Regions from separate parts of the Homo sapiens genome. Here regions 1, 2 and 3 are each reported to be linked to region 4. Evidence: microRNA targets listed by miRTarBase, many of them from high-throughput screens and not tested one by one. Region 4 holds a microRNA gene; each other region holds the end of a gene's coding sequence.

Region 1 (6,062 bases), not on the chromosome of region 4:
CCATTTTCATGATATTGATTCTTCCTACCCATGAGCATGGAATGTTCTTCCATTTGTTTGGATCCTCTTTTATTTCATTGAGCAGTGGTTTGTAGTTCTCCTTGAAGAGGTCCAGAGATATAGATCAATGGAACAGAACAGAGCCCTCAGAAATAACGCCGCATATCTACAACTATCTGATCTTTGACAAACCTGAGAAAAACAAGCAATGGGAAAAGGATTCCCTATTTAATAAATGGTGCTGGGAAAACTGGCTAGCCATATGTAGAAAGCTGAAAATGGCTCCCTTCCTTACACCTTATACAAAAATTAATTCAAGATGGATTAAAGACTTAAACGTTAGACCCAAAACCATAAAAACCCTAGAAGAAAACCTAGGCATTACCATTCAGGACATAGGCATGGGCAAGGACTTCATGTCTAAAACACCAAAAGCAATGGCAACAAAAGCCAAAATTGACAAATGGGATCTAATTAAACTAAAGAGCTTCTGCACAGCAAAAGAAACTACCATCAGAGTGAACAGGCAACCTACAAAATGGGAGAAAATTTTCGCAACCTACTCATCTGACAAAGGCTAATATCCAGAATCTACAATGAACTCAAACAAATTTACAAGAAAAAAACAAACAACCCCATCAAAAAGTGGGTGAAGGACATGAACAGACACTTCTCAAAAGAAGACATTTATGCAGCCAAAAAACACATGAAAAAATGCTCACCATCACTGGCCATCAGAGAAATGCAAATCAAAACCACAATGAGACACCATCTCACACCAGTTAGAATGGCAATCATTAAAAAGTCAGGAAACAACAGGTGCTGGAGAGGATGTGGAGAAATAGGAACACTTTTACACTGTTGGTGGGACTGTAAACTAGTTCAACCATTGTGGAAGTCAGTGTGGCGATTCCTCAGGGATCTAGAACTAGAAATACCATTTGACCCAGCCATCCCATTACTGGGTATATACCCAAAGGACTATAAATCATGCTGCTATAAAGACACATGCACACGTACATTTAATGCGGCACTATCCACAATAGCAAAGACTTGGAAGCAACCCAAATGTCCAACAATGATAGACTGGATTAAGAAAATGTGGCACATATACACCATGGAATACTATGCAGCCATAAAAAATGATGAGTTCATGTCCTTTGTAGGGACATGGATGAAATTGGAAATAATCATTCTCAGTAAACTATCGCAAGAACAAAAAACCAAACACTGCATGTTCTCACTCATAGGTGGGAATTGAACAATGAGAACACATGGACACAGGAAGGGGAACATCACACTCTGGGGACTGTTGTGGGGTGGGGGGAGGGGGGAGGGATAGCTTTAGGAGATATACCTAATGCTAAATGATGAGTTAATGGGTGCAGCACACCAGCATGGCACATGTATACATATGTAACTAACCTGCACATTGTGCACATGTACCCTAAAACTTAAAGTATTAAAAAAAAACCCTTAAAAAATAAAAATAAAAATGTTGTACTATCTAATAACGTATTGGCATTTTAAACTGCATGGCACTTCATGTCAAACTGGTGTATGTGGAGCAATATGACATCCAGATGTAAGTAATTATGAGATCACTAAAGGCGAACTATCATTTGTAACTCCTGATTTTTTTTTTTTTTGTGGTAGCACTATGTTCTTATTCTTATATGATAGAAACTCAGTATAGTCCATTATAAGAGATGAAGAAAACCAGAACTCTAAATAAAAGCACAAACACTTTTATTTTTAATAGTAGTGTTTTGTTACAATTTAGTGAAACAACAAATAAATACATTCATTGGCCACAGCTATACTTTTACAACCAGTTTGAAACTGATTATATAGCTGAGAAACACTGTTAAACAATAAAAAAGGCAGCTATGCATAAAAAAGCCACTTTAGCTATAAATTACATTTTCCATAAAACTACAACCAACTACAATGAGTGGTAAAGGTTTCAAAATTAATGGCCACCCAAGTGAAATGATGAAAACAAATACTGCTAATCACTATAGAATTACACACTTAAGTAATGAAATTCACTTTTTAATGAACAAAAATGAAGGTTTGATACTGTCATCATGTGCTTCAGTGCAGGATGAACAGGGAATCGGTAGCCCTTTGATTTTATAAACAACTCCTTTCGAGACCAAACTTAAAGTGCTCCTAGTGCTTTGGAATTTTTAAGCAAAGATTGGGCCAGAGTGTATCTTTATTTGTCTTTGGTGATATGTTAGATGTGTATAAGGAGACAAATGCAAGAATTTGGGTACCCTAGTCAGTGATAAGAATAAACTTACAAACCTCAAATTTGGAACAATCAACTAATGCAGCAGAAAGAACCAAGTTATTTTATCTGAAAAATTTTTAAAAAGTAATCTTTGTTAGTTTGGTCAAATAGGAACATTATCGAGGGGAGCCTTACTAGAAAAACTTTATCACCTTGAACCCCAAGGATTAACAAAGACAACATATCTTTTTGGACAGCTCTAGATGATTAGATGCCTAACATTATTAGCAAAATAAACAGTTAGCATTCTGAGAAGCAATCTAACAACTGGAGTTGTAATAAAAGTACGCTTTTGTCACTTAATACCACGGGTAACTTTTTATACTATACATTTTAAAATAATTTGGTTACAATGAGAGAATTATAAACAAACCCAAAATAACATAAGTATATGCTTCTGATTGAATACAAAGTCATTTTGTATCATAAAAAGAAGAAATTTATTTGTCTGTGTACTGGCCTCCCAAAAGATCGAAAGCATTAACAATTTCAATTTTTCCTTAAGGTTTCAACCTAGTGTTATACTTTTATGAAGTTATTGTATCAGTTGTTAAAAAGTTGAAGTACATTTTAAGTAAGCGAGGAAATAACATTCTAATCAAAGTATAAAACAGAAAAGGATAGTCGTATTAGTTCCAGTTCTGAAGAAATAGCTAGCAGACAATTGTAGTTTGTCTTTGAGCATGTTGTGACAACTTCCCAATGTTGCTTGTTCCCTTGGCATCTTGAGGTATTCAGCATCTACTTCTTTCCATATAGACACTGGTACAAAGTGCATTTTAAAATTCTGTATTATCTCAGCCTGCCATTTTCTTTTTTTTTAGATTTGGGATAGGACATTTAAGACAGTTTTAATGTAATTCTAAAAGTACTCCAATATTGTTAACCTGTGGTTTTATACTTACCTAGTTTGTACATTTACTTAAGTTTGCTCATTTAGTCTAATGCTGGAATTAATCTGAATTCAATTTAATTTGGCTTTTCCCATATATAAGATATAAAAATGTGAAAATCATAGGAATTATATGTCTTACAAAGTATTGCACTTGAGTTCACTGCAATAATGTATCATGATTTCATTTACCTGAGGACAATCCTGATTCACTAGGTAAGACCAGCTATATCATGCTTCAGAGAAATCAAATGCTTTTGAAAATATATTTATGTTTTAATTTAGAATTACACATTTTGTGAATAATTCTTAAATGCATCTCTAAACTTGTTTAGTCCCAAGAAGTTTCTACCAAAATCTCCCTATGCAAAAGTCACTATTGCTTTCTTCAAGAATCATGCTTAAACTACTACATATATCTCAATTACACAAAATAATCAACTGACCAATTCTACTCAAAATAGCCACACAATTTTCACTGGTATATTTTCCTCTTGAAATTATTGTGGCTCTCCAAAGAACACTGCTGGCCATAACTAATGGATTACTACCATCATTTGTTTAAAATGATTGAATTTCAGTTGCTATTTTAAAATCATGCTTAAAAGAACTGTCTTCAATGATTACACATTTTCAGTAGATTTTTATAAAGAATGATACATTTTTATGCCTTAACTCTGTGCACTGTTCACACTATAAAATTTTTATTAAGATATCTGTATAGAGCATACCAATGAATATACCGGCTTTGATTTTCATAGGAAAATTGCCTTCCAGTTTGGTGTACAATACAGTATTTCAGTGTGAACATTGGCATATGACTTTGGGGACTGCAGTGACTCAGAACAAAGATAAAAGTGCACATATGCATTTGATGTTCCAAAGTCAGGATTTTTGGAGGCCATCAAGTGCCTTAAGATCTAATCTCTCTTTTCTCCTACTCCAAACTTTCCATTTTACTTCATTTTACTATGAAGAGGTCAAAAATAATAGCTGTGTTATTTACCAAACACAGCCACACTTCCAGATTTTGTTTTCAGTTGCAACAGATAATGGAATGTTTATGTAGATGGAATTTAAACACATTGAATATACACATTTATGAAAAACAACTCAAGAATCATGACTTGGTGATGCTGTCAGTTTTGTGGTGTCACATATAAGCTATGATGATTGTTCAAATCTAAATTACTACAAGTAAAGAGCAAAGGAGCAGTATCTGTCATAGGTCCATTCAGGTGGGGAGTGACTGTGTAACTGCTGCTGCCACACCCAGTCATGGTGCCATACCAGCCCAAACTTTGCGAATTTGGTAAACTGCAACAAAAAAAAGGCAAAAAGACCATAGGACTATGATCAGGATATAAGAAGTCACATTTGAATTTTTAGCATTTTCAATGAATTTTGTAATAAAGTTAGCACTCAAATACATTGAAATATGTTCTTTGTCAAATAACAAAATGCTTTTCTACAAATTTAATGACTTTTATCTAATATCCTGGATTCTATATCGCAGTATGTTACAAAAGAATGAATAAATGCCACTCAGAACTGGTAGAACTTGATTGTCAGATGACAACAATGTAGTCCTTATGTACTCAGCTCTATTCTAAGACATCTATGTATGTATGTATGTATGTATGCAGACACACATATACATTCATTTCTCACAACAAACCTCTGAAATAGGTTCTATTATCCCTGTCTTACAGATGAAAAGCAGGTTCAAAAAACTGAGGTTATATAACTTGCCCAGATGAAGTTAGGATTACAGAAAATGTCATATCAAGCTGAAGCCATTATGCTTCATGGCTTCAGCCATTAAGCTTTCCTCTTTGCCCGAATCACAGTCAATAGTGTACTAGTTACGGACTTGAAATGGTTTTGTAACAAGGAGGGCATGGGAACATTTCCTATGGCAATTAAGCTTCCCAAGAGTTTTATCTAGGGTTTCTCTGGATTTTGACCAGCACTAAAGATATGGAAACAGACATATAATCACTATAATAGTATTTCTTCCTTGTGCATCCCCCTCCCACAAACAGCTCTGAACCAACAAGTGATCCCGAAATGAAATGGTACCATTTTAGCCAAAAGGCATATAGGCTTTGAGTCAAATGGTAGTTCCTGATAATGCAGGTCCCACCCTGGGTTTAACATCTACTGCTTTAAACTCCAGTATTGCCGATCTTATTTATTGACATATTACCACTAAATCACCTTTTTTCATATTTTGGTTAAAGCTTAGATTTGTTTTTTTCAATCAATTTCAATAGTAATTCAGGCTAAGTGGCTTTGTTACATCTACCTTCCTTCTCTTGAACTTCCCAGTCTTGGCAGGTCATCATCACTATCATATCGTCTTGGATTGTCGAAAAAGTAAGCTCTGGAACTATAACTGTGACTATTTATCATGCCAGCAGGTGCCTGTGAACAAAGTATTAGATAGCATATGAAGGTTTTACTTTTCCACTAAGAAAGGAGGCTAGAATCTATAATAATTTTTAGTCTTAACCTTTGCCAAAAATAGAAAATCAATATAAATGTTCCATAATTTTTAAAAATAGGAGAACAGGCATTGGGGAATATTATATCATACCAAATTCTGGTTTAATCTCTGTGCCCGGAAAAACAGTACCACCGACCATGCTGGCACATGTTCCCACAGAAAGAGGACCATTCCAAATACTATATACTCTTCTCCACTTATGTCTTCTACATGAGCCTGTAAATAGAGCATGGCAGAGAATTTTTACATCTGTTTATTGTATAAGCAATCACCTCCACAGTTAACTTGTTTCAAGTCAGGTAAGATAAAATATATCAACTACAAGCACATAAACTCTAAAACTTTCTATATTTTGTGGTTTC
Region 2 (6,062 bases), not on the chromosome of region 4:
ATCAGATACCCACTATGAAGCAAATTACATTTGCAACGTAAGCATCAAAGACAAAATACACCTTTGATTTCTAAAAAGTAATCAATTAAGGAGAAAAGAGTCTTAATTTTCATCAGAGAATGTACATTCAATGACAATGGAGCTAACTCCAATTTTGATGGTGTGAACAATATGAGATTGTGACACAATGCTGTAAAGGAAAAGATGCATCATCTCAAAATAAATTGAATTCCCATTTCAAAATAAATTGAATTCCAACCAGAACGCAAGGTATATGAAGACAGCAACCATGTTTGTCTCACTGCTGTGTACCTCCACATTATAGAACTGTCTTACACAAAGGTGCCTAACACCCAATGAAATTGACGGTAAACACTGGGAAATAAGCACACTGTTTAAATGGCAAAAGTTTACACTTGAGAACTTTATAGCAGGAAATGATAGCTATTTCAGATAGATTTTTTAAGTAAACCATACAAAGTGGTAAAAGAATTAAAGAGACAAAGAAAGCCTGCCTGAATAGAGAAGGAAACAGTTAAGAATAACTACCAAAGGTGTCTTCCTGAATCCTTTCCCTCTCTGAAGGTTCAAATCATCTGGCTTCAAATCAAAGTAAAAAAAATAGGTGGAAAATAGAGAATTGCCCTTCTAGTCTTCCTACTTTGGAATTCCTTTTTAAATAGCAGCTTTCAAATATCTTTTTATAATAAATGTTTTACCTTGTAACATTTAAATTCTCATTCAAGGCAAATATGAAGTTCACTCAAAAGCAGGACAGCTAAGGAGTTATTTGACTAGGCAGTCTTTGTTGCTGTTTCAAAAGGCCAAAATAAGGCTGAGGAGGAAAATTTCCCCAATGATCACTCTTAAAGTGATTCAATAAATTGGTTACGATGGAGAAAGACACTTAGCCTAAGTGCAAGTGCTGTCTTTTTGGGTAAAATCCGTGTAGTCTAGATGCAGTTCTGCTCCAAATCCAACATCCAAATGCCTATCTGCAATCAGCAGACGCGGGCAGACAAAATTTAACCTAAAATGCAAACTCTCAAAACTTAAGCACACTTAAAAGGTAAACTAAGTTTACAAATCCAATAACTGATACCATCACTTCTGGTTTTGAAGGAAATCATAAATGCAAATTTCTCAAGTATCCTCAATCTTTTAGGTTTACTTAAAAATTATGAAAATTAGATTTGAATATGAAACGTTCCAAATCACTAAGTTAAAAATGGATGAATGGGTACAATCAGTATAGTCATTCTGATTTGATAGTTATCACTGTGAACCTTAACCACTTGCAGGCTTTTTTTTGGATACAGTAAATCAGTACCAATGAGAGCTTTTTAAATGACCTGAAAAACACTACAGATATTCCAATCAAAAAATCTAAAATGCTCCAAAATCCGAAATTTTTTGAGTGCAGACATGACATTCAAAGGAAATGCTCATTGAAGCAGTTTGGATTTTACATTTTTGTATGAGAGCTGCTCAGCTGGTAAACATAATGGAAATATTCAAAAATTGAAAAAAATCTAAAACTCAAAACACTTCTGGGCCCAAGAATTTCAGATAAGGAATACTCAACCTGTATCATCTCTAACAGCCTTTCAAACCACTTTCAACTAATGACTACTGAATTTATACTTTTAAAAGAATGTAAATGCCAAAGATCTTCACATTAAGATGAAAAATAGGAGGTTCACTTTTATTTTGCTAATCCGTCAAAATACATTCAAGCATGGCACAAAAATTATATTCAACACTAGGTTCTGTACCACCTGCTCCCATGAACTCTTAAATCTGAATAATGTTCAGATAATTTTCATAGGTGGAAGTGGTCAAAACATACAACCAATTGTCCCTCCTCCCCAAGTCCCACATGCCAAAATGTTTGCATATAAACTGACAAGAGGAACCCAGAAGTGACTAAATACCACTATGCTTTTTTCTTCACTACAAATAGCAATTTTAAGGGTAGACACATGACAATGAAGTGTTAATATACCATGAACAGAACAGGTTGCCTTCCTAATACACAGAAAATCCTTTTACATAATTCATTTGCAAACTTTAGAAGCCACTATATTCCCATGTTGGGAATAATATGACAACCTTATTAAACTGAAAACCCTGAGAAAGGTGTACTATTCCAATTGACCCAGATCTTCCCACCAAAACTGAGTAAGTCAAGCAGAGTAGTATTTAACAATTACAACGAAAAATTTCAGAGAATCATTTTCTGTATCCTAGAGGCCACTCTACAGCCACCAAAAAGCTGGACCAAATTACCAAATGAAGTAGCCCACATGTAATTTGTGTATCACTAGAATTAAAAAATAAGACAGAAATGTATGGAAAGTGTACAACTATTTGAGAGCAAAGGATTTGACTATGTATTACCTCAATGTGTAAAAACATCCACCCCGTTTGTCATAGAGGATATAACACTATTTGTACCAACCATCCGCTACCCTTTGTCAAAATGACTACTGAGCAGCTATAACCTAGCCTAATAATCTTAACCTTTCTTCTTACTTCTTTAAAAGCCCTGCCAATCAGGAAAAAAAAAAAAAAAACTGGCAAGAACTAGACCTTAGGAATTGAACAGTGACAAGAAGTTAAAAAATGGTTCAATATTAAAATATTATTTTATTTTAAAGCCCAATCTTTCAGAAAGCTTCTTAGTATAGCTTTGAGCCTTCAACGTCAACATGTAAGTCAAATATTTAAGTTAAATATTAACATCAAGTTAAGCATACTAGATTAAAAGGTACTCTGAACCCACCCACCAGGTTATACATACTCTCACTCAATCATGTAAAGAATTGAATTCTTTATTTGTGATATCCATAAACGTTGCTATTCTCTATTTCTATCCAGAAAGGCAATTTTCACCTATTATCACTTTTGTTCTTCTCTTATAAACAACAACTTGAATGCTATTGCAGGAAAGGGCTACAAATATACATTTGTTAACCAAGCAGAATACACAGATATTTTGCTTTACAACTTGCACCTAAAATACCAGTATACGTAGCTGGTTCATTAGTTGTCATAGCAATTTAGGGCTATTGCCCAAGCTATGCATAGCAGTTTACATTTTCAAACCTCATATAGAAAGGGCTATTGTGATATGAACTGGCAACTACATTCCTGTGAAGCCCATCTCAGTTACAAGCAAATGTGTTAACTTCCAATTCTGCAAAGAATTTTGATGGCAAAACTTCCAAATCTGATGCAATTGTCTTAAGCAAGTTTTTAAACAAATTGTTTCGCAGCTACTCTGCCATTCTGCCAGTAGATGGTGCTACAAAGATCGGGAAAGGGATTTCCATGAGGCCAACAGTTCGGATATAGGAAAAAAAAAAAAAAAACGTTTAAACCTGCTCTGAAAGTACAAAAACGCATTTGAGGGTAAAATATAACCCTTATTTTTAACCATTCATTACAGACAAACCAGTAAGAGGGATGAAACTAGGCCATCTGAAAAATTTTAAACAGTTTATATGAATGACATGCTTAACACAAACTATATAGAACTACACAGTACACAGTTTGAAGTAAATTGTCATAGAAATGACCAACCATGTCAAGATGATAAACAATTCGCTTAGTACAAGAGATGGATGCACAGAAACTTAAGAGTTTAAAAAGCCACATCCACCACTTCAAAAGTTTTGCCTGTAAGGGATATAATTCAACACGCAACTAGCAGGGCAACAGGAGAGGGGAAAAAAACCACAGGACCTCTTAAGTTTCTCTAAGTACACATCAAGAATAAAGAATTAACACGTAAAGTCTTAAACAAATATCCCTTAAAAAACGGTACGGAATGGATCCTAGAAAAAAAATGTTAGACATGTACGGTCAAACACAATGATTTATTAAAAATAAAACGTAAAAATGATTTTTGTACATATGCTTCCAAATTTCAGGCATGGGATCCAAGTAGATTTCATAGAAAACGCTGTAGCCAGGTTATCAAGTCCTTACAACAAAGTAAACTACCCCCCACCCCAACCCCCACCCAGGTTTTGCTACAGAATCAGCAAGTTCACTCCCTCCCTCCCCCCAAAAAACACAAATTAAAACAAGACATTTTGCTAGTATAAAAACGACCAAGGTCCAAGTAATAATAAAAAAATAGAGTCCATCAATGACTGTAACACAAAAATGTGTATGTGGGGCCGAGTCCATCTTCAGAGGGAGAGACAAGAGAGGTGGCAGGCAAATAGAGGAACACCCCCAAGGGTAAGCAGCCTTAGAAGTGGCTCCCCCAAGGGCAAAACAGGGAAGGCGGTGTGTGTGAGGGGGTGGGGCTTAGGAGTTGACCCCACTTGGGCTGTTGGAAAGAGCTACCCCTATAGCCACTCCCAGGCATTTTAAATTTTCTTTTAGAAGGAGCTGCCTCCATAGCCACCCCCACCGCCATAGCCGCCTCTGTAAGGTCCACTATTACTGCGACCGCCCCAGCTACTGCCTCCACCGCCGCCGCCGCCGCCGCTCTTCATGGGCCCATAGGAGGACTGATGCTGGCTGTAGCTGCCGAAGCCGCCGAAGCCGTTACCGTAGTCGCTCCCACCGTAGGACGAACCGCCGCCGCCGCCTCCGTAGGCATTGTAGCCGCCGCCTCCGCCGCCGCCGTAACCACCGTAGCTGTTGTAACCGCCGCCGCCGCCCTTGGAAAGGCCGTTCTGGTCTCGACCACCGCCGCGCCCCCGGCCGCCTCGGCCGCCCCGGGAGGATCGGGAGCCGCCTCCACCCCCACCGGAGTAGATATCCTCCTTGGGGACTGCTTTCTTCACCTCCACGCGATGGCCCTGAATCGGATGGAACTTGACCACCGCGGCCTTGTCTGCCGCGTCGTGATTCTGGAAATACACGAAGCCGAATCCACGCTTCTTGCCGGACTGCTTGTCGGCAATAATCTCGGCCTTTTCCACGGTGCCAAACTGCGAGAAGTGCTCGATCAGGTCGCCCTCAGCCACGTCTCCTTTAAGGCCTCCGACAAAGAGCTTCTTAACCTTGGCGTGGGCACCGGGCCGCGCCGAATCCTCCCGGGACACCGCCCGCTTCAGCTCCACAGTGTTGCCGTCCACGGCATGGGGCGAGGCGGCCATGGCGGCGTCCGCCTCCTCCACATTGGAGTAGGTCACGAAGCCAAAGCAACGGGAGCGCTTGGTCTGGGGATTCACCACCACCACGCAGTCCGTCAGAGTCCCAAAGGCCTCAAAGTGGCCGCGCAGGCCCGACTCACTCGTCTGCACATTGAGGCCGCCGATGAACAGCTTACACAACTGAGAATTCTCCATCTCCAAGGCCCGGGCCTTGCCCCCGCCCTGCGAGCTCCGAGGTTTCGCCGTCGCCGCCGTTATCGTTGGTTAAGGCCTCTACACAGCTTGGGCCCAGCCGTTGCTGGAGCCACCCCCGCCGCTCACCGACGGGGAAGGGAAAAAGGGAAGGGGAGGGAAGGAAGGAAGAGAGGAAGGGGGAGGGAAGGGGAGCGGTGCCGGCTAAAGGGCGAGCCGAGGAGACTGGAAGACAACCAAGGCCACCGCTACCGCCGCCGCCGCCACCTCCGCTCCCCTATCTGGGCACCACACAAAGAGGCCGCTGAACGCGCGCGCACCCTCCCCGAGGCGTGCGTCACCGCCGACGTACGGCAGCCTAGGGCTACCAGCCAATCCCCGCCTCGCTCCCCTTAATCCCGCCTACCGCGCCGCAGCGCCGCTCTAGATCACGGACTCCCCGCCCTCCGCGGTCTATTCAAGCCCGCGGCCTGTGCCGCTCCCGCTTCCGCTTCTGCCAGCCCACTTTCATTCCCGAGCGCCCCACTGTCCCTTGACATGGGTCCCTCCCTGCCCTCCGCGCACCACCGCGATTCATTTCCTCCTAGCACCGCGGCTGTTCCCAGTGTTTCTCCCCCTCCCCTTTACTCATCCCCTCGCCCAACTCCGCAGTGGCGTTCGCGCCAGCCCCTTGAGAGACATCTGAGTTCAGCCAATCACCGTGATCCCCTCGCACCCACTTCCGTTTTCGGCAGCTGTTGGACGGGCGCGCTC
Region 3 (6,062 bases), not on the chromosome of region 4:
GCCTAGGTCCCAGGTGGGGTTTGAAGGCCATGGCGTGGTCTCCTGTAGGGAAGAGCAGGTTGTAGAGTGAGTCCACGTGTGTGTGTGTGTGTGTGTGTGTGTGTGTGTGTGTGTGTGTGTGTGTGTGTAGCAGGCTTTCATTGGGTCTAGTTTCCTGGAGGGCTGAGGGCCCTGTCAGCCTCCCCAGCTAGGGCTAGGGTCAGGCTTGCAGTGGTGGGTCCCAGTGAGCAGGCTGGGCTACGGCCTCTCCAGTCTCCAACCTGATCTCCCTCATTCTGCTCGCAGGTGGCCGTAACCTTTGGCCTGGGGCAGCTGCAGGAGCGCTGCGTGGCTTTCATAGAGGCCCACAGCCAGGTACTGCTCCCTTCATACTCCTCACCCTACGCACCGCATTCTGCTCCTCCCTGACCCATTTGCCGGCTCGCAGGAGGCCCTCCGGACCCGAGGCTTCCTGGAGCTGTCGGCGGCCGCGCTGCTGCCCCTGCTCCGCAGCGACAAGCTCTGCGTGGACGAGGCTGAACTGGTCCGCGCGGCCCGAAGCTGGGCGCGCGTGGGCGCGGTGAGTGGGGCTGGGGGAGCGCAAGGGCACGGAAGGAGGTGCTGGCCACGAGACTGGTGAGCGGGCGGCAGGACAGGTGCCCGACTCAGGGCTGGCGTTTGCAGGCGGTGCTGGAGCGGCCGGTGGCTGAGGTGGCGGCCCCGGTGGTGAAAGAGCTGAGACTAGCCTTGCTGGCCCCGGCGGAGCTGAGCGCCCTGGAAGAGCAGAACCGGCAGGAACCACTCATCCCGGTGGGGACGCGGGGAACCGGCCCAGCTCCACTCAGCAGGGGGTACAGGGCGCTGGGAGGGGGCAGGAGCAGCCCGGCCCACGGTCCTCGGGGCGAGGGGCCACCGCGGGACTGCGCACTAACTGGCCTTGCTCTGCAGGTGGAGCAGATTGTGGAGGCGTGGAAATGCCATGCCCTGCGGAGAGGGGATGAGGCCCGGGGCGCCCCGTGTCGCCGCCGGAGAGGCACCCTGCCCCGGGAGCATCACCGCTTTCTGGACCTGTCCTTCAAATGATCCAACGCCGGGACTCGCAGGGAGCCCTCGACCCGCCCAGCTGAGCCTGCCCCAAACTACAGCTCCCGAAGTGCTCGGCGTTCGGAGCGGGCTTCCGTTCCCAGCGTGCCCAGTGAGCCGGGCGCCGGAAGAACCGTTGTCTGCCACGCGCAGCCCCTTGTGCGGGATCAAGCCCGTGTGGGCGAGGTGGGGTCGGGCCGGGCAGGGCTTGGGCTGGGCCTCCCTGAGGGGGTGAAACTCGAAAACGAGGATTTCCTTCGTTCCACACCCTGACTCTACGCCCTGCCCCTGGGCATTGTCGTCTACTAGTCTATTCTGATGACTCCCACATATCTATCTGTTCAGCTCAGCTCCCTCTTTCTTTTCTTTTTCTTTCTCTTTCTTTCTTTCTTTCTTTCTTTCTTTCTTTCTTTCTTTCTTTCTTTCTTTCTTTCTTTCTTTTTCTTTCTTTCTCTTTCCTTCCTTCCTTCCTTCCTTCCTTCTTTCTTTCTCTTTCTCTATCTCTTTCTTTCTTTCTTTCTTTCTCTCCTCTCTCTTTTTTTTGAGACGGAGTCTCGCACTCTCGCCCAGGCCGGAGGGCAGTGGTGCCATCTCGGCTCACTGCAAGCTCCGCCTCCCGGGTTCACGCCGTTCTCCTGCCTCAGCCTCCGGAGTAGCTGGTACTACAGGCGCCCATCACCACGCCCGGCTAATTTTTTTGAATTTTTAGTAGAGACGGAGTTTCACCGTATTAGCCAGGATGGTCTCGATCTCCTGACCTTGTGATCCGCCCGCCTCGGCCTTTTTTTTTTTTTTTTTGAGACAGAGTCTTGCTCTGTCGTCGAGGCTGGAGTGTAGTGGTGCGATTTCGGCTCACTTCAAACTCCGCCTCCCGGGTTCAAGCGATTCTCGTGCCTCAGCCTCCTGAGTAGCTGGGATTACAGACATGCACCACAACGCCCGGCTAATTGTTGTATTTTTAGTAGAGACGGGGGTTTCACCATGTTGGCCAGGTTGGTCTCGAACTCCTGACTTCATGTGATCCGCCAGCCTCGGCCTCCCAAAGTGCTGGGATTACAGGTGTGCGCCACCATGCCCGGCCTCAGCTCCTTCTTTCATTCCAGACCTGCCCCCCTGGAGATCGCTCCCTGAATGCCCCTCAGACACCACAGGCTCGGCGAGAAATTGATCTCCCCAGCTTTTCCCCAGCTCTGCCCCCATCGTGTTTCTCATTTCCGTGGACACCCACGCCAGAAACCTGGATCTCATCCTTGCCTTATCGCTCTTCACACCTGCCTTAGGTCTCTTTTTACCTTGTAAGAGACCTTAAGAGACCTTTCCAGTTGGTTCAGTTCTCTCAGCCCCAGGTTCAACCTGTCCTGTCTGACACGTCTCACAGCCTTCCTGCCTTCACTCCAGCGCCCCCTCAATCCATTTCCCACAGTGCAGCCAGACCTGTTTTTGATTGTCAGTCCTATGGGGCTTAAGTCCTGGAACATCCCATTGACCTCCAGGACAAAATTCAATCTATTTCACTTTCAGGGCACTCAAAACTACTAGTGAGTGGTTCCTCACCTCTTCTCTCAAATACAATCTTTGTATAAATTCATTTATCCTGGAGGTATTAGTCCTCTAGCTCCATACCTTACTCAGTTACTGCAGACCCCTCTGCTACCTCCTTCATTCACTATACATCTTGTTTTCCCGAGGATGTGAATCTCCCTCAAGAAAGATCCCTGGGGCCTGGAGTGGTGTCTTACTCGTTTCTGCTTCCTCAGTCTCTGTCAGATAATCAGTGCTATGTAAATGTTAAGTAAATGACTTTATTTATTTATTTATGACACAACCTTATTCTCACCCAGGCTGGAGTGCAGTGGTGCAATCTCGGCTCACTGCAGCCTCAGCCTCCCAGGCTCAAGTGATCTTCCCACTTCAGCCTGCTGAATAGCTGGGACTACAGGCATGTTCCATCACATTCGGCTAACTTTTTTTTTTCTTTTTGTAGAGATGAGGTCTCCCTACGTTGCCCGGGCTGTTCTCAAACTCCTGGGCTCAAGCAATGGTCCCACTCCGTCCTCCCAAAGTGCTGGGATTACAGGCATGAAGCACCACCACACCCAGCCTATTTCCTCATTTAAATGCCACTTTATTCCATGAAGAGTTTTAAAGGAGCTGCAAAGCAAGATACTGTCAATCTAAAATGAGAGACAGTTGACTATTTAGAAGAAAATAAAGTTAGATTTCTATCTCAGGGACTTCATACAAAAATATATTGTACAGGAGGCCAGGCACCGTGGCTCACGCCTGTAATCCTAGAACTTTGCGAGGCCGAGGTGGGTGGTTCGCCTGAGCTCAGGAGTTCGGGATCAGCCTGGGCAACATGGCAAAACCCTGTCTCTAAAATACAAAAAACTAGCCAGGTGTGGTGGCACATGCCCGTAATCCCAGCTACTTGGGAGGCTGAGGCACGAGAATTGCTTGAATCTGGGAGGCGGAGGTTGCAGTGAGCTGAGATTGTGCTACTGCACTCAGCCTAGGCAACAGAGTGAGACTCTGTCTCAAAAAAAAAAAAAAAAATATATATATATATATGTATATATATATATACACACACACACACACACACACACATAGATGTGTGTGTATATTATATATACACATAGATGTGTGTGTATATTATATATACACATAGATGTGTGTGTATATTATATATACACATAGATGTGTGTGTATATTATATATACACATAGATGTGAGTATATTATATATACACATAGATGTGTGTATATTATATATACACATAGATGTGTGTATATATTATATATACACATAGATGTGTGTGTATATATATACACATAGATGTGTGTGTATATTATATATACACATAGATGTGTGTGTATATTATATATACACATAGATGTGTGTGTATATTATATATACACATAGATGTGTGTGTATATTATATATACACATAGATGTGTGTGTATATTATATATACACATAGATGTGTGTGTATATTATATATACACATAGATGTGTGTGTATATTATATATACACATAGATGTGTGTGTATATTATATATACACATAGATGTGTGTGTATATTATATATACACATAGATGTGTGTGTATATTATATATACACATAGATGTGTGTGTATATTATATATACACATAGATGTGTGTGTATATATATTGCACAGGGATTAAAGATAGTTATTTAGCATTATCTCTCGACAGAAAATGTGCTTACTCAGTAGTACATGGCAGCATTGATTGGATAGTGGAAATTGAAAATCATCTATACGTCCATTACCAGAGGACTGGTTATATTAACTATGGTATATTCCTGTAATATTTAAAAAATCCATGATCTTTGGTGAAAAAAGCACAGAATAGACCAATTACAGCATGATTCCTCTTGTTAAAAGAAAAAAGGTAGCATAGTGATTAAGAGCGTGTCTCCTGGAGCCAGAATGCTTGCATTTGAATCCCAGCTCCGCCACATATTTTCTTTGTGATTAACCTTTCTTTGCCTCAGCTTCCTTATTTATAAAATGGAGATAATGGAACCTATTTAGTAGAGTTTTTAGGAAGATGAAAATAATTTCATAAAATACTTAGAATTGTAGTGGGACAGATTAAATTCTGTATATGTGTTTAGAAAACATATTCATTCATTTGTTCCACAACTATTCATTGAGTGCTCACACACTAGACATTGATTTACGGTCATGGAATAAGTACATCAGACAACAAGTCAAGTCAAGTCTTTGCCTCATGGAGCTAACATTCTAAGAGGAGAAACATGCAGTAAACAAGTAAAGAAATGTATGCTCTATTCAGGGAGTAGTTTGTGCTATGAGGAAAAGCAAAACAGGTTGAAGAGATAGCTATGTGGTGGGAGTGGGACTATTTCGTACAGGGCACTGATTGTAGACCTCTGATGAGATAACATTTGACAAGAGATCTGCAGGGAGCTATGTGTCATGGGGGAAGGCATTGGAGGGTTTTGTGCAGGACAGTGATGTGTGATCAGATTTAGTTTAAAAGAATAATTTGGGCTGGGCATGGTGGTTCCTGCCTGTAATCCCAGCACTTTGGGAGGGTGAGGTGGGCGAATCACTTGAATCTGGGAGTTTGATACCAGTTCGGGCAACATGGCGAAATCCCGTCTCTACAAAAAATACAAAAATTAGCCAGTGTGGTGGCACGCGCCTGCAGTCCCAGCTACTTGGGAGGCTGAGGTGGGAGAATTGCTTGGATCTGGGAGGTGGAGGTTGCAGTGAACTCAGATTGCGCCACTGCACTCCAGCCTGAGATTGTGCCACTGCACTCCAGCCACTGCACTCCAGGAAGACCCTCTCAGAAAAAAAAAAAAAAGAATTTGGCCGTTATGTGGAGGACTGGAATTGAGAAGGGCAAGAGCGAGGTAGAAGAGTGGTCTAGGGAGAACAGTTAGGGGCTATTGCAATTATCCAGCAAGAGATCTTGGACCAGGATGGCAGCAGTGGAGGTGGTAAAATGTGGTTGGATGAAGCGTACGCTTTGAAGGTATCAACAGGACCAGCTGATGGAAGGGAGTCAACAGGACTAGCTGATGGCTGTAAACTGGGGGGTCACTAGCTATCAGATGGCATTTACTTAAAGCCATGGAAGTAGGTGAGCTCCCTTATGGAGAGGGAATAGGAAGGAGGTAGACCATTCTATCAAAATGCTCTTTCTACAGGGCACTTCTCACTGAGATATTATTTATCTGGGATTTATATTATTTATTCAATTTGTTTTGTGTTTGGTTCTATTAGAAAAGCTCCATAGGGGCCGGGCACGTTGGCTTTTGCCTGTAATCCCAACACTTTGGAAGGCCGAGGCAGGCGGATTACCTGGGGTCAGGAGTTTGAGACCAGCCTGGCCAACATGGTGAAACTCTGTCTCTACTAAAAACACAAAAATTAGCCGGGCGTGGTGGTGCGCCTGTAATCCCAGATGCTGAGGAGGAGAATCGCTTGAACCCGGGAGGT
Region 4 (6,062 bases):
ATCATACTGGGTGTATCACTCTTTTTTTTTTTTAAACAGAGTCTTGCTCTGTCACCCAGGCTGGAGTGCAGTGGCGCCATCTCAGCTCACTGTAACCTCCACCTCCTGGGCTCAAGCGATCCTCCTTTCTCAGCCTCCCAAGTAGCTGGGATTACAGGTGTATGCCACCATGCCTGGCTAACTTTTTGTATTTTTAATAGAGACAGGGTTTCACTATGTTGGCCAGGCTGGTCTCCAACTCCTGACCTCAAGCTATCTGCCCACCTTGGCCTCCCAAAGTGCTGGGATTACAGATGTAAGCCACCGCGCCCAGCCGGATGTATGATTCTTTAACCTGCGTTTTTCACACTCCAGGATGTCTTGGAACCATTTCCATGTGCTAGCATAAAAATTCACCTCCTTGGCTTGGGACGTGGCTCACGCCTGTAATCCCCGCACTTTGGGAGTCCGAGGCAGGGGGGTCATCTGAGGTCGGGAGTTCAAGACCGGCCTGACCAAGATGGAGAAACCCCGTCTCTACTAAAAATACAAAATTAGCTGGGCGTGGTGGTGCATGCCTGTAATCCCAGCTACTCAGAAGGCTGAGGCAGGAGAATTGCTTGAACCTGGGAGGAAGAGGTTGCAGTGAGCCGAGACTGCACCATTACACTCCAGCCTGGGCAACAAGAGCAAAACACTGTCTCAAAAAAAAAAAAAAAAAAAAAAAAATCCACCTCCTTTTTCTGCACTGCTGGGTAGGATTCCACTGAATGGATATACCACATTTTATTTAGCTACGACCTCATCAAGGGAACTTTAGGTGTTTTCCAGTTTCTCACCAGGATGATGGACATTTTTACACAAGGCTCTTTGCAGGTGTTACTCTGGGTCAGAAAGTAAAAATCCCTCGAGACGGGGATTGCACCAGGTCCCGGTCCTCAGCCCCACTGCACTTCACCTGTGTCAAGGCCACGGGAACCCTTCCACCGTCTCTGCCAGCAGATGCCATTCAGCACCCACCCCAAGATACTCATACTTTGACCCGGAAGAGACCAGAAGCACCCTGCAGTTCGTGTGGACAAGTCTCCCCTCTGACTTACAGTCCCCTCACCCTCGTACCTAGGAGAGGGATGGCAGCGCTGAGGGTCGTGGGATTCTCTTCCCTGGAGGCTCCCCCATCCTCGTGGCCTCTGCGCGGTCCAGCTCCCCTCCGAGCTGGCTCAAGGGGTAACTTGATCCAGGTCAGCTGGTGGAGTATGAGGTAGCGTCTAGCTGAGCGTCACGGTATTTTATTAAGTCCGAAATGTGATTGCTACTGTTGTCACACTTTAGCGCCCCCAACAATCCCCTTACAAATGAGAAAAACAGAGCCTCCCCAAATGCCTTTCCTCTGACATCAAGGAAAGCGCATGGAACCCTGCCCAGAGGCCTGAGCCCGGGTGACCCCAGGAGTGGCTCCAGAGCTTGAGGAAAGGCCTGGGGGGCGGAGGGGGTGTTTTTCCAGTTTCAGGCAAAGCAGTGAGCTGGGGGCTATCTGCTGTTTCCTCTGCGCCTGGGTCTGTAAAGTCAGCGGTTGCCGTTTAAATCCCATTTTCCTTAACATGTCAGGATTGCTCATTCTAGGCCATCCATTTATATGGCCATGGCTCAGAGGTCTCAGACTCACATGCCTAGGGGGGTCAAGGATCCAGGTAACGTAAACTGAAGCAAGCCCCGTAGAGATGGTGGGAAACTGTAAATGGATGCCCTGGCTGAAGGAGGTAGCTGAAAATCTGGAGAGAGAACAAGAACAAGAAGAGAAAGGGAAGAGGAGGCAGAGAGAAAAGAGAGAGGACATCCCCCAAGTTTACATATTGCCCATTGCTTCAAAAAAATTTAAACATGCAATGAGCTAAGTAGATATGTCTCCAGGCCAGTTTGCAGGCTCTTCCCTAACTGAACTTATCAACACAGTAGACAAGCTGCCGGCCTGGCTCCCTCACCCCTCTAGAGCAGCGCTGTCCAGTAGAGATTTCTGCAATGATAAAATATCTGCAGCGTTCACTGCAATAACCACTGGCTACATGTAGCTCTTGAGCACTTGAAGTAGGACTAAAGAACTGAACCTTTAATGTTATTTAACTTTACTGAATTTCAATATAACTATAACTAGCCACAGGCAACTAATTGCTACCATATTAGACAACATGGCTCTAGATTCTTTCAATGTGGAGGGTATCATCGTGCTTGACTACTGCAAAAAAGATCACTCCTTCTTGGGGAGAGGGGGTAGATTATACCTGAGACCACCAAGCATTAATCAGAGTCCTGGGTAAATGGAAAGAAAGGAAATTCGAAATACTGAGCAGTAAAAGCTTAGGTGTAACCAGATGTCTGCTGGCTCAAGAGTGGTCACTCAGTGTCCTTCCACTCCCCCACTTCCCAGTGAGTTTCTCATTCAGGGTCACCCTTTAGCATCCACTGTGTTCTTGGCCATCTGCTTACTCCCATTTGCCCAGAGCTGACCCCTAGGAAGCCACCTGGGGGTACTTCCCTGCTGCCGTTGGTCTCCAGGCCTTAAGAGCACACCACTGTCCAAACCCAGGGTGCTGCCCGTGGGTCACAGAGGTGCAAGGTCCTATGCAGAGGCGAGAACGGCAGTTGCACTTTGTCACCTGCCACAAAGTTGCTGTGCCTGGGCCCATGTGTGTCAAGGACTCTGGAAACAAGCCTCACCTTTCATCAAAACCCTTTCTAATCTGAGGCCCTTTCAAGGGGCTGGAGAGGGACCAGCAGCCACACTACCCCCTTGCCAACCCCTCTCTCAGATTCCAGCCCAGCTCCCCACAGGGCAACCCAGGCTGCCCCAGATGCCACTGACCCCTCTCTTGCCTCCCTAAACATCACCATAACAACAAGACTACCTTACGTATCTTTTAAAAATTAATGAGGAGGCCTGTAATTCTACCACTTTGGGAGGCCACAGCGGGAGGATCACTTGAGCCCAGAAATTCAAGACCAGCCTGGGCAACATATTGAGACCCTATCTCTATTTTTCAAAAAAAGAAAAAAAATGAATGAGGCAGGGGCTTCCCACCATCCCCCTGCAAAGCTTATATTCTCAAAGATAAATTCAAGCCTTTTGGCCAGGCACGGTGGCTCATGCCTGCAATCTTAGCACTTCGGGAGGCCAAGACTAGAGGATCTCTTGAGGCCAGGAGTTTGAGACCAGCCTGGCCAACATAGCAAAACCTCATCTCTACTCAAAATACAAAAATTAGCTAGGCATGGTGGCACACACCTGTAGTCCCAACTACTCGAGAGGCTGAGGCTTGAGAATCACCTAAACCTGGGAGGTGGTGGCAGTGAACTGAGATTGTGCCACTGCACTCCAGCTTGGGTGACAGAGCAAGACTGTCTAAAAAAAAAAAAAAAAAAAAAAAAAAAAAAAAAAAAAAGCTTTTTGCTTGTCCAATTGTCTAAAAAGAGATCTGTTCAAAATGTTGCAAATACCCTTTCTTCCAATTTCTCTACTCCCATCAAGGTTCCAGAGATGTTACAACCAATTTTTTCTCAGTAGTCAAGCTCAGAGTCCCACGTGCTTCTCCTCCTCCAGCAGCCTTTGTAAGGAGGCAGCTGCCTCGAGAAATCACCTTGCAACTAAACTGTGGGAAAATGTGTAAGATCTTAACACAGTGGTAGAAACTAACATGTATGCAGTAGCCACTGTGCACCCGACACTGTTCTCGGTGCTCTCATGCAGCATCTCGCTTCTCCTCACCTCATCTGGAGGTGGGTTCAGTTATCAGGTCCATTTATCAGTCAGGCCTCTGGGGTTCATGAGGGTCATGCCCCTCACTCAAGGTCACACACTGGGAAGCGGTTGGATCCAGGATCCAGGCCCAGGCAGTCAGATTCCAGAGCCTGCACCCTGAACCAGTACCGCAGGGGCTGGCACCCCCGCACATTTTTTGCCCCATCAACATATTATCATGTCACTCCGCCAGCATCATGAAGTGCACTCATGATATGTTTGCCCCATCAGCGTGTCACGAGGGCATTTCATGATGCAGGCGGGGTTGGCAGGTGTGCATCGTGTAGGCTCCACATGGGACATGGCATCCCTTACGACTCTTGGCTGCAAAGTGCCAGAAACCCAGCTCCACTCACTTAATCTGAAAAGTGGGTGTATTTGTTCGCCAGGGCTGCTGTAACAAATTTCCCCCAGTTACTGGCTTCGAACAACACACACGTGTCCTCTTACAGTTCTGGAGGTCAGGCTCTGAGAGGAGAATCGGTTTTTTTACTTTTTTTTTTTTTTTTTTTGAGACAGAGTCTCGCTCTGTCGCCCAGGCTGGCGTGCAGTGGTGTGATCTCAGCTCACTGCAGCCTCCTGCCTCCCAGGTTCAAGCTATTCTCGTGCCTCAGCCTCCCAAGTAGCTGGGACCACAGATGTGCACCACCATGCCCAGCTAATTTTTTGTATTTTTAGTAGAGGTGGGGTTTCTCCATGTTGGCCAGGCTGGTCTCAAACTCCTGGCCTCAAGTGATCCACCCGCCTCAGCCTCCCAAAATGCTGAGATTACAGGTGTAAGCCACCACACCTGGCCCTTTGGTTTTTTGTTTGTTTTAGTTTTTCTTTCAGTGGCCACTTGTGTATGTTGACTGTGGTCTCTTCTTCCATCTTCAAAGCACATGACTCCAGTCACCCTCTCCTTTCTGTCATCAGATCACTGTCTCTCTTACAGGGACCCATGTGATTCCATTTAGGGCCCACCCCGACAGCCAAGGAAAAACTTCCCACCTCAAGATCTCTAACTGAACTAAAGTCCTGATTGCCATTTAAAGTAATAGATTTGCAGGTTCCGAGATAAGAATGTGCGCATCTTTGGGGGTTCGTTATTCGGCCCAGCACAGTCAGGGATGGCTCAGCTTCAGTCCTGACTGGATCCAGGGGATCAGATCGCATGCTCATGGCATCCCCCTCTCCAGCTCGCAGCCCTGCTTTCCTCAGCAGCTCCCGGCTTAATCCACCATTCAGCAGCCCCAGGGAAGAGACAGCACCTCTTCCAAAAGTGCCAGCCAACGTCCCCGGGCTGGTTCCCATTGGCCCACCTTAGACCACATGTTCATCCTTGAAGCAATCACTGTGGCCAGGGGGACCTTGGGTCCCTCTGATTGGTTTTCATTGTCCCCACCCCGTAGTCTTTTGTTTTTTTGTTTTTTTGTTTTTTTTGAGACAGAGTCTTGCTCTGTCATGCAGGCTGGAGCACAGTGGCGCGATCTCGGCTCACTACAACCTCCACTTGCTGGGTTCAAGCAGTTCTCCTGCCTCAGCCTCCCGAGTAGCTGGGATTACAGGCAGCTGCCACCACGCCCAGCTAATTTGTGTATTTTAGTAGAGACAGGGTTTCATCATGTTGGCCAGGCTGGTCTCAAACTCCTGACCTCAAACAATCCACCCGCCTGTCTCCCACAGTGCTAGGATTACAGGCATGAGCCACCATGCCCAGCCTCCACCCCATGGTCTTGTCCCACAGAGAGAGGTGTTTCCCCAAGGAAACTGAGTGGGAAACAGCATGGCATTGGAGTTTGTTCAATGGCAAGCCCTGGGGATAGTGCCTGGCACATAGTAAGTGCTCAGTAAATGATGATCACAGATCATGAGGCACAGCAGGTGTCCCTCCAGGAGCCAATACTTGAAGAGCACAGGGTTTACTAAGCAGATGTAGGCAGGAGAGCATTTCAAGCAGGGGGAACACCTTTAGCGAGGCAGAGGTGTCCACCATATGGCCAGGGTGACCAAATGTCTGGCCATACTTGGGAAGCTGGGGACCTAGGGGAGTCCTGGTTTGAACCTATCCCCCTAGTATAATACCATCCCCCTTTAATGCAAAACTCTCTCTGTTTGGAGAGTATCTGTATGGTCACTTTCCTTGCAGTCAACCTGCTCATTTATAAGGAAACCAAACAGACAAAGAGGATGAGATTGAACCCAAGGACCTCTAACCTTGAGTATCCAAATCCAGACTAGAACCCGAGCCTGATGACTCCCAGTGCAGTGCTCATCCCAGCCCTCAGCTTATGAGGCCAACCCTTGAAGG

What was found. Region 4 holds the annotated microRNA hsa-miR-3616-5p (AUGAAGUGCACUCAUGAUAUGU, at 3,970-3,991, shown strand). A microRNA usually pairs through its seed, bases 2 to 8, with sites in the 3' UTR of a target mRNA and lowers its output. Matches are read on the target gene's strand: a 7mer-m8 pairs with bases 2 to 8, a 7mer-A1 pairs with bases 2 to 7 and ends in A, and an 8mer does both.
Region 1: the mRNA of GPR137C is a reported target of hsa-miR-3616-5p. Seed matches in the 3' UTR shown: 7mer-A1 at 2,858-2,864.
Region 2: miRTarBase lists HNRNPA0 as a target of hsa-miR-3616-5p. Seed matches in the 3' UTR shown: 7mer-A1 at 3,556-3,562 and 7mer-m8 at 1,990-1,996.
Region 3: miRTarBase lists BTBD19 as a target of hsa-miR-3616-5p. Seed matches in the 3' UTR shown: 8mer at 1,916-1,923.

The regions. Positions count from the first base shown.
Region 1 is chr14:52,633,384-52,639,445 of GRCh38, reverse strand. GPR137C (G protein-coupled receptor 137C) reads right to left here. Exons shown (of 7, transcript NM_001099652.2): 5 at 5,791-5,916; 6 at 5,500-5,618; 7 at 1,733-4,508. The coding sequence ends at 4,331. Among named protein-coding and RNA genes, the nearest start is that of ERO1A, 59 kb to the left of the region's middle.
Region 2 is chr5:137,748,755-137,754,816 of GRCh38, forward strand. It overlaps HNRNPA0 (heterogeneous nuclear ribonucleoprotein A0), which reads right to left and starts at 5,609. Exons shown (of 1, transcript NM_006805.4): 1 at 1-5,609. The coding sequence starts at 5,312. The coding sequence ends at 4,395. RefSeq lists enhancers at 4,268-4,959, 4,369-4,528, 5,039-5,388, 5,650-6,062 and a silencer at 5,969-6,062.
Region 3 is chr1:44,812,711-44,818,772 of GRCh38, forward strand. BTBD19 (BTB domain containing 19) reads left to right here. Exons shown (of 8, transcript NM_001136537.3): 5 at 286-354; 6 at 428-559; 7 at 664-789; 8 at 928-2,875. The coding sequence ends at 1,062. Among named protein-coding and RNA genes, the nearest start is that of BTBD19, 7.2 kb to the left of the region's middle. RefSeq lists a silencer at 1,209-1,278.
Region 4 is chr20:47,163,016-47,169,077 of GRCh38, forward strand. MIR3616 (microRNA 3616) reads left to right here and starts at 3,952; the gene lies at 3,952-4,043. The region is part of intron 10 of EYA2 (EYA transcriptional coactivator and phosphatase 2); the gene reads left to right.